Linked DNA regions of Homo sapiens. The protein of the gene in region 4 interacts with the protein of the main gene of each other region in a pairwise test. Each region holds a gene or a part of one and is shown on either strand. Other genes may lie near its edges.

What was found. The genes of interacting proteins can lie anywhere in the genome.
Region 1: the proteins of UBIAD1 (region 4) and PIGP interact in binary tests that used the Homo sapiens proteins (3 or more experiments, as listed by UniProt).
Region 2: the proteins of UBIAD1 (region 4) and SCN3B interact in binary tests that used the Homo sapiens proteins (3 or more experiments, as listed by UniProt).
Region 3: the proteins of UBIAD1 (region 4) and CPLX4 interact in binary tests that used the Homo sapiens proteins (3 or more experiments, as listed by UniProt).

Annotation. Positions count from the first base shown.
Region 1 is NC_000021.9:37,067,473-37,070,071, forward strand, and holds part of PIGP (phosphatidylinositol N-acetylglucosaminyltransferase subunit P), read right to left. Parts: intron 2,153-2,599; coding exon 2,080-2,152; intron 1-2,079. UniProt on the Homo sapiens protein: Part of the glycosylphosphatidylinositol-N-acetylglucosaminyltransferase (GPI-GnT) complex that catalyzes the transfer of N-acetylglucosamine from UDP-N-acetylglucosamine to phosphatidylinositol and participates in the first step of GPI biosynthesis.
Region 2 is NC_000011.10:123,644,625-123,648,124, forward strand, and holds part of SCN3B (sodium channel regulatory subunit beta-3 precursor), read right to left. Parts: intron 1,127-3,500; coding exon 963-1,126; intron 1-962. UniProt on the Homo sapiens protein: Regulatory subunit of multiple voltage-gated sodium (Nav) channels directly mediating the depolarization of excitable membranes.
Region 3 is NC_000018.10:59,298,276-59,301,649, forward strand, and holds part of CPLX4 (complexin-4), read right to left. Parts: intron 1-3,374.
Region 4 is NC_000001.11:11,276,198-11,279,697, reverse strand, and holds part of UBIAD1 (ubiA prenyltransferase domain-containing protein 1), read right to left. Parts: intron 1,285-3,500; exon of another isoform or gene 825-1,284; intron 522-824; exon of another isoform or gene 423-521; intron 1-422. UniProt on the Homo sapiens protein: Prenyltransferase that mediates the formation of menaquinone-4 (MK-4) and coenzyme Q10. MK-4 is a vitamin K2 isoform present at high concentrations in the brain, kidney and pancreas, and is required for endothelial cell development.

The sequences.
Region 1 (2,599 bases), on a different chromosome or scaffold from region 4:
TAAATTTTATAAAGTAATATGTGTACATAAGAGACAAATAGTTCCACAAGGCTTACAGTGAAAAACTGCAGTCCTCTATCCCACCATCCCAACCCTGGGGTCTCACTCTCCAAAAAGAAATGCTTTGAGCACTTGAGCTGTCTTCTGGTACTTACCTCCTCATTGCTACAAAACATGCTCATATTACTATTTCCTCATTTTTTTCCATTACAGACATTTTCTCTAGGCTTCCTAATATGGAGATAAGGAATTAACCTCCTCCTATCCTCTTCTATACTTACATTGCAATTTCTCATTATAGCAGCAGGTTTTAGAAATAATTGTACCTACATAAACAATTTTGCAACTGAGGATCTTAGTACATTATTATTATATATTTTCTTGTACAACTTTTTTTTTTCTGGAATAATTACATCTTTTTGTCTGTTCACTTGGTTTCCCAGGAATCCACCAATACCAGAGCCTCAAATTCTCTGATAGGACTCTATTATGCCTCTCAGTATCATTATGTACATGGAGTGCTATTTTTCATTGAGTGTTTTTTTTTTCTTTTTGAGAAAGCATTTCCCTCTGTCACCCAGGCTGGAGTGCAACGGCATGATCACAGATCACTAGCCTCAATCTGCTGAGCTCACTTCAGCCCTGCAAGTAGCTGGGACTATAGGCACACACCACCACACCTGGCTAATTTTTAATTTTTTTGTAGAAATGGGGTCTTGAGATGTTGGCCAGATGTTTTTTTTTTTTTAAATGATTTGTTCTCTATTATTTTCTCTTTCTGGAACTTCTAATAGTTTGAATTTTTAACGATTATACTTTCTTATATTTTCATTTTTTTTTGTTCTAACTTCTAGAGATTACCTTTGTTTTATTTTCCAGTCTTTCAATTAAAATTTTAATTTTGGTTATCATGTTTACAATTTCCAAATACAGTAATTTCCTGTTTGCATAGCATTCTGTTCTTGTTTCATAGTTATAATTGTTTCTTACCTCTGAGAATTTTATGTTATTTAAATTTTTTTTTCTGTTTCCTGCATTATCTCTATTTCCTTCAAATTCCCTTTAATTTTCTGCTTTTTCATTTCATGCTAGAGGCTTTCTTTTAATGTCTGGTAACTTAGAGTAGTCCATTCATATTTAAAAATGAAGTGCTAACAAGTGAGTTGGAAGCACTATGTGTATGTGGGCAGGGATGGTCAACTGGTGAGCCTCACTCTGAGAGACTTGGCCACTTCACTGGGGTCCTCTAAATGTCAGAAATTATAGATCCTTTCTCTCGGGCTGGTCAGCTTCCTCAGGAAAGAACTATCTATCTTTTTCTGTGAGCAGTAGGGTGATATAAGCCTCGAAGCCCCAAGAGGGAAGATGGAGCAGGAGGTAAATCTTCTCATTAAGCCATGTAGATTTTCACTTACTTCCCTGTTTTCAGTAAGATGCCGCATTCCCACACTCAGACTTAGTGGCCCCCATGCTAGAGACTCTTACTTAACCTTGCCAGAGAGTAAAACTCCTGTTTTCTGCAGGGGAGGGCAGGGCAGGCCTCCCAGCTTTGAGGGCTGAGGGAGATTTGAAGGCTGAAGACTTCATATGGTCTTTAAACATGTTTTCAGTTCAACCCAGAATTAAAGAGCTACCTGGTACCCCAATGTCTGAGCTATTCTGGAGTTCTAAGGCACAAATATTCTTGCTGGCTTCCCTACTTCAGCAACGTGAAAATCACAGAAACAAAGGCAGTTACCTCTCACCTATCACAATCCACTTTCCAAAATGTGGTTGATATCTCTTTTCTGCTATACTATTGTTTCTGTGGTTTGTATCTTCAGTTTTTTTTTTTTTTCCTGTAGGGTCATTTTAACAAGATTTTTGGAGGAAATGGATGGAGATAAACATGTGTGTTCATGCTACCATCTTTAATTAGAGATGTATCAATAGCGATCTTTAAAAAGCTTTCAATTTCTATATGGCTATTCATGAATTTTAAGAGAACAAATATTTAAGATTTGGGTAGGTTTAAGAAATGATATGACTCCTCAAAACAGCATTAATTATATCCTCATTTAAGAAATATATTAAACTTACTTTTGAGGCCAATAGGTTAAACCTAAAGAGTTTAGCCAAGATTCAGGAATAAAGGCCCACACGAGGTAAAGTACTGTAGAAAAGAAAAAGAAAAAAAAGAGGAAGAGAAGTCAGTAAGACATACATCTAATCTATCAATCTATTAAGATTCAGATAAAACAGAAAAGCTCTTTTGAAGTGTCCCTGATTAACTCAGAAATGATTTTTTCCTCCTTTCAGTTCTTCTAGCTCGTTTGCACAATTCTTATAATACTTATAATTACTGTATTAGTCTTTTTTTTTAATATCTTAACTCACATTATATTTTAAGCAATTCAAGGATACAAATCATGGCTTAGCAATTGTTGTAATCCTTATTACCTAGCAGTTTGCTTTAGGTACAGTAAGTGTTCAATACTTCATCCCCACAAGGTTGAAGTAATTATAGACATTTAATTGCTCAAAGGGAAATTTACCTACCCTAGTTCTCATCCACCACATACTGAGCTTCTGCCCTATCTCCCAGAGTACAATGTTATTT
Region 2 (3,500 bases), on a different chromosome or scaffold from region 4:
AGCTGGGCATGGTGGTGGTGCCTATAGTCCCAGCTACTGGGGAGGCTGAGGTGGGAGAATCGCTTGAATCTGGGAGGTGGAGGTTACAGTAAGCGAGATCACACCACTGCACTCCAGCTGGGTGACAGAGGGAGACCCCGTTGAGAGAGAGAGAGAGAGAGAGAGAGAGAGAGAGAATATATATATATATATATATATATATATATATATATATATACACACACACATATATACACACACACATACATATATATATATACACACACATATACAACCACTTTGCCACTGGCACCAACCACCCAGAACTGACACTGGCTATGGTGCAGGAGCAGAATCTGGAAGACTCCCAGCTCTGCCAGGAGCGAATCTCTTCGTTTCCAAATCATGGATAAGTCTGGGGGTTCAGCCACTTAGGAGACTCGGCACAGCAAGTATCCACGAGAGAACTGTTTGACATAATTGACTCACTGATGTGGCTGTGCTGGGTGTCCCGGGTGAATGTCACCCTTGGATCACTCTTTGTCATCCCTGTCATTCCTATTTCAATGGGACTGCAGGAGTTAAAGGAGCTAACCTTTGTTATTTCACATAATGATGCTTTGTGTTATTCCAATTTCTTTATGAATTTAATGCATATAATAGGATGGCACAGAAGATTAGATGAAAACACCTGCAAAATGTGTGGTAGGGCGCCTATCACATAGTAGGCTTTAAATATAGCATATCTCTTTCCTCTGCTTCCTCCAGCCCATAATCAAGGGTGCTTGCAGCTGGCCCAGTGCCCTTTCTCTCACAGAAGCTGGGGCTTCACTAAGGCTGTCAGTTATCTGCTGAGGATCTGTCAGTGTTTGGAAGAGAAGGAGCCAGTGTTTGCTAGCTTGGCATCCCCCGGACTGTCAGGAGCCAGGCTGGGAACAGCAGAGGCCAGCAGAAGAAAGGCCAGAGTCAGCAGTCTAACATACAAGGAAATCTTTACCGCCCTCGGGCCTGTAGAACCATTCCACCACCGTGGTGGCCTCCACCTCCTCTCTCTTCATGCAGGAGATGCAGCGCAGCTTCATGGGGTTGCCCTGCACGGCCTCCGTCTCCGAGGGCACTTCCACACACACAGGGAAGCAGACACTGACTGCAGAGAGGACAGATGGACAGGGAAGGAACAGCAGGTGGTGGGGGAGGGGCACAGGAGAGAAACATTGGAGAAGAAGGAGGGAGGGAAGAGAGACAGAGAAGGAAGAGTCATGAGGCCAACCTGAAAAAAGCCACGTGCACATGTCTACACCTTCACCTGCGCTCCCTGAATGTACAGGCTCAGAACGTGTACACATTGGAGGAGACCTGGATGATCTAGACATTGACTGAAATCCTTCCCCTGGAAGCAGTGGAGATGCAGCACCGTACATTATACTTGAGCCCTGCTCTCTAAGTCTTATAGCCCAAATGGGAGACAGGGCATCTACCTACCCAGCAACCATCCATCCCCCTTCATTCCACCACCACTCATTAAAATCCACTCTCTGCCAGGTCTGATGCTAGACTAGAGATGCAAAGATGAATAAAACACTAACCATGCCCTAAATGCATTTATAATCCAATAGGGAACACATATTCCTAACTAGGATTAAACCAGACCACAGCAAGTAACACACTCATGATATATTCTGTTCTTAGAAGACAGGCAGTTAGTTACTCCCAGTTGGCCTGGGGAGAAAGGAAGAGAAGGATGGTGAAACATGAGGCTAGAAAGGTAGGCAGGGCCCATGCTGTGAAGACCTCTGTGTGTCCCTTCCAGTGTGAGGTATCCAATGTTTTAAAGTCGTGGAGAGATGTAATTGTATCTGTGTTGTGTGAAAACTGTAGGTAATTCTGACACATGGTGGAGGTTGGAGCAGCAGTGAAGAAAATGGCGAGCGGACCACTAAGCTGGAACAATGGTCTATGCAGAGGAGTATAGCAAGGCAAGTTAAAATCTGGAGCGGGGTCAGATTGTGGGACACCTTGCATGCCACACAGAGGTCTAAGACTTAGTGTTTCTGCCCTCTAGAAACTTGAAGTCTGTTTTTTAAAAGGAGGCAAGTATATCAGCTTGATAATTCAGAATAACTTGAGCGGGACAAGGCTGCCAGCAAAACATGCGCAAATGTGAGCTGCATTAACAGATGTACAGTACGCAGGAGGAAGGAGGCGTAGTTTCTCGGCACTGTTTTTGGAACAAATCTGGACTATTATGATCAGTTCAGGATGTCACATTTTAAAAAAGGAAGTTGTTCAAAGAGTGCATGCCCAGAGGTGAGGGAGATGGTGAAGGATCTGGAGATAAAGTCTGGTGAGGAAAAAATGGGAGAATTCGAGTTGCTTAGCTTGGACACAGAACATATCTGTCTTCAAATATTTGAAGGCTGGCAGATGGAAGAGAAATTTGATTCTGCCCAACCCTAAAAGTTATAAGAAAAAAATAAGTTTAATGCAATAAAGAAAGAATTTTATGATTTTGGAGCTGTTCACAAATGCAAATAACTAAATGCTAAGAGAGTGTACACAGCATTGTTTGGGATATTTGAAAGTAAGACGAGGCCAGGTGCTGTGGCTCACACCTGCAATCCCAGCACTTTGGGAGGCTAAGTTGAGAGGATTGCTTGATGTTAGGGGTCTGAGACAAGCCTGGGCAACATAGTGAGACCCCTGAGTCTACAAAAATAAAATAAAATAAAAATTAGCCAAACATGGTAACACACAACTGTAGTCCCAACCACTCAGGAGGTAAGAGGATTGCTTGAGCCCAGGAGTTTGAGGCTGCAATGAGCTATGATGGCACCACTGCACTCCAGACTGGTTGACAGAGTAAGACCCTATCTCTTGAAAAAATAAAAACAACATGATGGTCACCGCAGATTCTTATATTAGGACTTTGAAGATCCCTTCTGATGCTACTTTTTCATGAATTAATAATAAAAACAGAACCCCCAGAAAAAAAAAGAAATAATACACACTACATTTAAAAACTAGTCCACTGTTAATGGTCAGCCTGTTCATCTCCTGGCAGAGCGTTCTTTCCTAAAAGCAGAGGAAGGTTTTATTTAGAGCTTAATAAGACACTGCCATAAATTAATTTTGAGTCCAAAAACTGTGTTTGATTGACTTAGAAGGCAATGTATTTATTTTAAAACATGGAGTTTAAAAACTAGTGGCACTAGAATTAACTTAAAGTTGTAAACATCAAGGTAAAATAAATGTAATTGGGTTTTCAACTCTCCAGCAAGCTGGGTGAGTCTTATCTGACAGTCTTCAAGAGGACCTATTGCTTCTGCAGATGGTGAGCCACGTTAATGGAGAGAGGACTCACATCTAGGGAGAACTGATCAGAAACATCTTCAGCATATGATGAGTCTGAAGTATTGATTATAGATCTGATTAAACAAAAAGGAAATGTGGTTTGCGCAAAAGTTTGTGAGTGGGCAGAGGGGTAGAGCGTATGCAGCAAGAACTCCGTGTAGTATGGAACC
Region 3 (3,374 bases), on a different chromosome or scaffold from region 4:
CTATAGAGTCTCTTGTTCTGTAATGAGAGAGGAGTCTAAAGAAAAATATTCTCTGGGAAAGGTTAACAGTAGCTTACATCCCCAGATGGCTGCTGTCAGATTTTTTGGAGATCAGGTTGTAACATGAGGTGACCTGGGTTTCAGGGAAACAGAAGATTAAAAAGAGTGTCAGAAAAGCTAATGAGAGGAAAGATCTATGTTAGAGCCACCTGAATATGTTGTGACCAGCCTTAAATTTGTTACCAAAGCTCATGAAAAATCATATTAAAAAATGACGATCTTAGTCAAACAGACTACATTGCTTTAAGAAAGATTTCTGCACCTGGTGACTTCTGAGGTGGAGTTAAAGACAGCACCTAAAGAGAGATCTGAATTCTCCCTGTCTGGGTGCTATGTAGGAATGATCAGAAAGAAACATCAGTTGTCTCTAGGTCCAAACAGCACACCAGGTAACCTGGAAACTTCATTCTTCATCTGGAAAGTGGGTTGGAAGGACGAGATGGCTGAAGTCTTTTCCAGTTCTAACACTCTGTGGCTCCCATCCTTGGAGGGGCTGAAGCCCAGCTGCCTTTCCTCAGGGCTCTCTTCTTTGATTCGGTTCCCTGGGCAGAGTGACACAGGAGTCTGGCTCAAGAAATAGCTTGAGAAGCAGATTTCTGATGCAGCAGGAACCACTGATTTTGGGAAGGACAGTCTTCACCCAGGCCCTCCTTGGAGAGCCTGGAGGACAGTCCCACTCCGCGCCAGCCTCCGGAGATAAGTGAAGCCTCTCCCTGCTCTTGGCCAGGGCCTTGGGCCCTCCAAGTGCTTAACGGATTAATTAGTTCCTGGTCAAACTGTTGTGGGATTAATTAGTTAGTTAATCCTTAGGGGCTCCCAGCCAATTGTGCATTTCTATTTATTTTTTATTTGCCTTCCCTAGCGGCTGCTTTCCTTGCTGATCGTCTTCTGGGACTTTTTGCAGGAAGGAGAGGAAAAGCACAAGGTGGACGACTCATTCTCAGTTCATGCCAATGTGGGACATCTGCCCTCTCTTATGCATCCTGAAATCAAATGCAAGTAATCTGAAAAGACATTCCCGGGAATTCTGGCCCCTTCCCTCAGGTTGGTAGTAAGATCCCCAAGCATGTCACCAGGTTTGAACCTGGACAGGGTAACTGCTGTGGGCTTGCAGGGATGGGCAGCTAGAGGGGCTAGAGGAAAGCGTGTCAGCCAGCCAGGAGTATAAAACACCGAACACACTCATGAGGGCTCACGGGATGGTGCTCGCCTGCCTCCCATTCACAGGGAGACTTCAGCGAGGCCACCATCTATGGCTCTGCAGCGCTTGAAGAAGCTTTGGGATGGTTTCCTCCTTCAAGGGTGACTCTGAGGTTCGTTTTATCCTTGTGCTTCTTGCTCAGGGAAGGGAGAGCAGTGCAATTCTACGTTGCCTTATGGAGAGGATCTTGATTGCCCTAACTTTTATCAAAGTGGTTCTCAAAGTAGTTCTCAAAGTGGGTTCTCCAGGACAACAGCATCAACATCTTTTGGGACTTTGCTAGAGATGCACGTGCTGGGACCCTACTCAGACCCACTGAATCAGAAACTCAGGGCTCGGGCCTCGCAATCTGTGATTTAACAAGTCTTCCAGGTGATTCTGGGGCTTGCTGAAGTTTGAGAACCCCTGCTCTACATTTCTTGAAGACAAGGGCTGTAACTTACTCATCTTTCTGTCTCATAACCCAGCAAGGTTTCTGGCATGTAGACACAGACAATTATATGTTTACTGAATAGCCGGGCATGGTGGCTCAAGCCAGTAACCCCAGCTCTTTGGGAAGCTGAGGCGGGGGGATCACCTGAGGTCAGGGGTTCAAGACCAGCATGGCCAATTTGGTGAAACCCCGTCTCTACTAAAAATGCAAAAAATTAGCAGGGAGTGGTGGCACACACCTGTAATCCCAGCTACTAGGGAGGCTGAGGCAGGAGAATCACTTGAACCTGGGAGGCAGAGGTTGCCATAAGCCAAGATCACGCCACTGAACTCCAGCCCGGGCAAAAGAGAGAGACTCTGTCTTAACAAATAAATAAATATTTTTAAAAATTAAAATAAATGTTTACTGAATGATTCAATGAACCTATTGTCAGAGAGGATAACAGCCTTAGTAATACTCAAATTTGTAGGTCCTCTTTGCTGTAAAGAGCTCTGTTTTCGTAGCTATCGGTTTATCTTTATAATTCCATTGGGGCATCGCAGCCTAAATTGCCTGAGTGAGCACATTAGTTCTACCACTTATAGGATGGGTGACCTGGGGCACTTCGTATAGATGGCCTCTTTGAGCTTTATTTCCTTGTCTGTATATGGAGAATTGCATTATTTGCCTTAGAGCTGTGGAAGGTTAATTAGATGGTAACTGAATTATTTAGAATCTGTTAAGCACTCACCCAGTAGTAGCTATTCATAAAAATAATAACCTTCAGAGGTGGGCAGGGGAATTTGCTGTGGGCAGTCTTGCACATGGGGTTAGCTCTGTCAGGAGGCTGTGATGTCCTGGCACCTTACCTCTGACCTAGCAATGACTCCTACCTTCACCCAAAGGCTTGGTTTTTCTAACAAGCCAGGCTTAGTCATTTCCTCTTTAGCACTAGGCTCTCTATTCTAGGAGAAAGCTACCTAGCCAGCCCTAGCTCCCCTTACCTCTTGTCAGGCCCGCCCCTGACTTTTGTGGGTGGCAGAACATAAGTGCTGATAGAAGTTCCTGGCTCACAACCTGGCCCTCTTTTTTTTCCAGTTCCTGGTGCCAGCCCTCACTGGGAAGGGCCTTAGGACCTTGGGTGCATGGCCCCTACCCCACTCCTCAGGCCTAGTCTGCCTGGCCACTCTCAGGAGCACAGATCTGCATCGGAGGCCTGAGAATGCTCTGGAATGCACTTAGGCAGGGCGTTTGGGGTCCTAAGCAGCTTGAGCATAGTCTACAAGAGGGGTGTGGGCTCTGCCTGGGCTAGGCCCTTTGGCCCACAGACTCTTCACCCCGTGTGAAAGAGTGTGGCTAGAAGAGAGACCAAGAGAGCCCTCTAAAACATGGGCCCCAGGGCAGTGGCCTCAGATGTCCAGGTCCAAAGGCAGCAATGGGTGTACTCGATGGCTGTGGTCAGAGAGTCCTGCACTCACCATTGATCTAGAAGTACAAGGCTACTGGCCCTCCACCAGAGCATGGCTGCTTCTGGAGATGATTCTAGTCTTGAAGCCAATTACTCTGGGCTGCAGCCTGTGCCATGGACATCTTATGACTAAAGGTAGGACAACCAGACAAGGCCGTTGAGTGGCTAGAGGAGAAAATGATGCCCTCTGGAACCAAATGTGGGCCTGTAGCCTCATTAGCTCTGGATCCTAA
Region 4 (3,500 bases):
ATGCCTGTAATCCCAGCACTTTGGTAGGCCAAGGTGGGTGGATCACCTGAGGTCAGGAGTTTGAGACCAGTCTGGACAACATGGTGAAACACCGTCTCTGCTAAAAATACAAAATTAGCCAGGCATGGTGGCAGACGCCTGTAATCCCAGCTACTTGGGAGGCTGAGAATCACTTGAACCCGGGAGGCAGAGGCTGCAGTGAGCCGAGATCATGCCACTGCACTCCAGCCTGGGAGACGGAGTGAGACTCTGTCTCAAAACAAACAAAAAACAAAACAAAAAACCACGAAGTCAATTGCTTGCTTTTCCCCCAAAACTTGTTCTATCCCCAGCCTTGCCCTTCTCACATGATGACATCACTCCAGATGGTATCTTCCAGTTCTCAGGTCAAAACCTTTGAGTTATGCTTATGCAGCTATTGATAGGCAATGGTATGATTAACTGGGGCCTTAAAGATGATGAAGATATGACATTTACAAGGTGGACAGGCATGATTATTGGGCCACCAAGGACAAATTATGAAAAGAGAATATAGGCCGGGCATGGCAGTTCACACCTATAATCCCAGAACTTTGGGAGGCCAAGGAGGGCAGATCACGAGGTCAGGAGTTTGAGACTAGTCTGCCCAACATAGTGAAACCTCATCTCTACTAAAAATACAAAAAATTAGCTGGGTGTGGTGGTGTGCACCTGTAATCCCAGCTACTCGGGAAGCTGAGGCAGGAGAATCACATGAACCTAGGAAGCAGAGGTTGCAGTGAGCCGAGATCACGCCACTGCGCTCCCGTGTGGGCCACAGCGCGAGCCTCTGTCTCAAAAATAAAAAAAAAGAATATATAGCCTGAAAATAGAAAGTGGACCCAAATACCCAGAAGCTCCCCCATCAGTTAGATTTGTAACAAGAATTAATATGAATGGAATAAATAACTCCAGTGGGATGGTGGATGACCGCAGCACACCAGTGTTAGCAAAATGACAAAATTCATATAGCATTAAAGTTGTACTTCAGGAGCTAAGACGTCTAATGATGTCCAAAGAAAATATGAAGCTTCCACAGCCACTGGAAGGACAAACATACAACAATTAATTTTAGTGGATCTCAAACTTGTCTTATATCAACAACCTTCTACTCGTGTTAATGTCTTGATTAAATATCACAATGCAAAATACCCACACGTTAAATAAAAGAACTCCGGCTGGTAAACATGACCTGGACATTTGTAAGAATATATTTAATATATGTACACCCATTATGTTTTCAGGTAACAGGAAAAATGCAACCCAATTTTTTTCTCTTGTTAAGGTACTGTCATTTAAACATAAACTTGGAGTACTCGAAATATAATTCAGGTTTACAAGATGAAAGCGTGGTAAGAAGTGTCAGATGGCAGTGGAAGCATGTGTGTTTCTAAAGACTAAAAATCTCAATAAAGAAAACAGGGCTGGGCACAGTGGCTCATGTCTGTAATCCCAGCACTTTGGGAGGCTCAGGCGAGCAGATCACTTGAGGCCAGGAGTTCAAGACCAGCCTGGCCAACATAGTGAAAGTCCGTCCCTACAAAAAATCCAAAAATTAACCAGGCGTGGTAGCACGCGCCTGTAGTCCCAGCTACTTAGGAGACTGAGGTAGGATGATCGCTTGATCCCGGGAGGCAGAAGTTGCAGTGAGCTGAGATCGCACCACTGCACTCTAGCCTGAGTGACAGAGTAAGACCCCCATCTCAAACAAAAAAGGAAAGGAAAAAGAAAACAGAGGCCAGGAGAGGTGGCTCACACCTTTAATGCCAGCACTTTGGGAGGCCAAGGTGGGCAGATCACCTGAGGTCAGGAGTTTGAGACCAGCCTGACCAACATGGAGAAACCCTGTCTCTACTAAAAATACAAAATTAGCAGGGCGTGGTGGCCCATGCCTGTAATCCCAGCTACTTGGGAGGCGGAGGCAGAACTGCTTGAACCCCGGAGGTGGAGGTTGTGGTGAGCCGAGATCGTGCCATTGTACTCCAGCCTGGGCAACAAGAGCAAAATTCTGTCTCAAGAAAAAAGAAAACAGAAATGGCATGCTTTATCCATCTTGCTTAGTGAAAGAGAGCTGCAGTTGAAATTGTTTAAAAAGTAGCAGGTATTGGCCAGGCATAGTGGCTCACGCCTGTAATCCCAGCACTTTAGGAGGCCAAGGAGGGTTGATCACTTGAGGTGAGGAGTTAGAGAGACCAGCCTGGCCAACATGGCGAAACCCCGTCTCTACTAAAAATACAAAAATTAGCCAGGCGGGCACCTGTAATCCCAGCTACTGGGATTATACTTGAACCTGGGAGGCGGAGATTGTGGTAAGCCAAGATCGCACCACTGTACCCCAGCCTAGGCGACAGAGCAAGACTCCGTTAAATTAAAAAAAAAAAAAAAAGTAGCAGGTACAATGAACACTGTCACAAATGTGTTTGATTTTTTTAATTTTTTTTATTTTTTTGAGATGGAGTCTTGTTCTGTTGCCCAGGCTGGAATGCAGTGATGAGATCTTGGCTCACTACAACCTCCCAGGTTCAAGCGATTCTCCTACCTCAGCCTCCCAAGTAGCTGGGACTACAGGCATGCACCACCATGCCCAGCTTATTTTTGTATTTTTAGTAGAGATGGGGTTTCACCATGCTGGCCAGGCTGGTCTCGAACTCCTGAACTCAGGTGATCTGCCTGCCTCAGCCTCCCAAAGTGTTGGGATTATGGGTAAAAACTACCACATCCAGCACAAATGTGTTAATTTTTGAAGTGGTGTGGGTGCTGACTACTAGTAGTATGAAAAATATGTTCAGGATTGTTTTGATACCTATCTTATAATAAAAAATGTTGGGGGGGAGTTGATGAATTTCTGTTAAAAGCTGTTCATGTGTGTTACACGTAACAGACATGGTAAATATTTGCTTACAGTTTTTTTTTTTTAACAAACTATGCACTTAAGGTTAAGTGACATCAACAAAAAAGGGATACATATATGGAGATATAATTTTGAAACTAAAGTTGGTCTTTTTTTTTTTTTTTTGAGATGGAGCCTCTCTCTGTTGCCCAGGCTGGAATGCAGTGGCATGATCTCAGCTCACTGCAACCTCTGCCTACTGGGCTCAAGCAATCCTCCTGCCTCAGCCTCCCGAGTAGCTAGGACTACAGGCACATGCCACCACGCCTGGCTAATTTTTGTATTTTTAGTACAGACAAGGTTTCACCATGTTGGCCAGGCTGGTCTGGAACTCCTGATCTCAAGTGATCCACTTGCCTTGGCCTCCCGAAGTGCTGAGATTACAGGCATGAGGCACAGCACCCAGCCCAAAGTTAGTCTGAAAATGTAAATAAAATGTGGAATGTGTCCAAGAAAAAAAAAAACCTTTGAGTTATGCTTAATTCCTCTGTTTCTCTTTACCTCACATCCAATCCATCAGCAAACCCTGTCTACCTTCAAAGCATATTTAGAATCTGGCTACTTACCTCTTCCACTACCACCCGCTAGATAC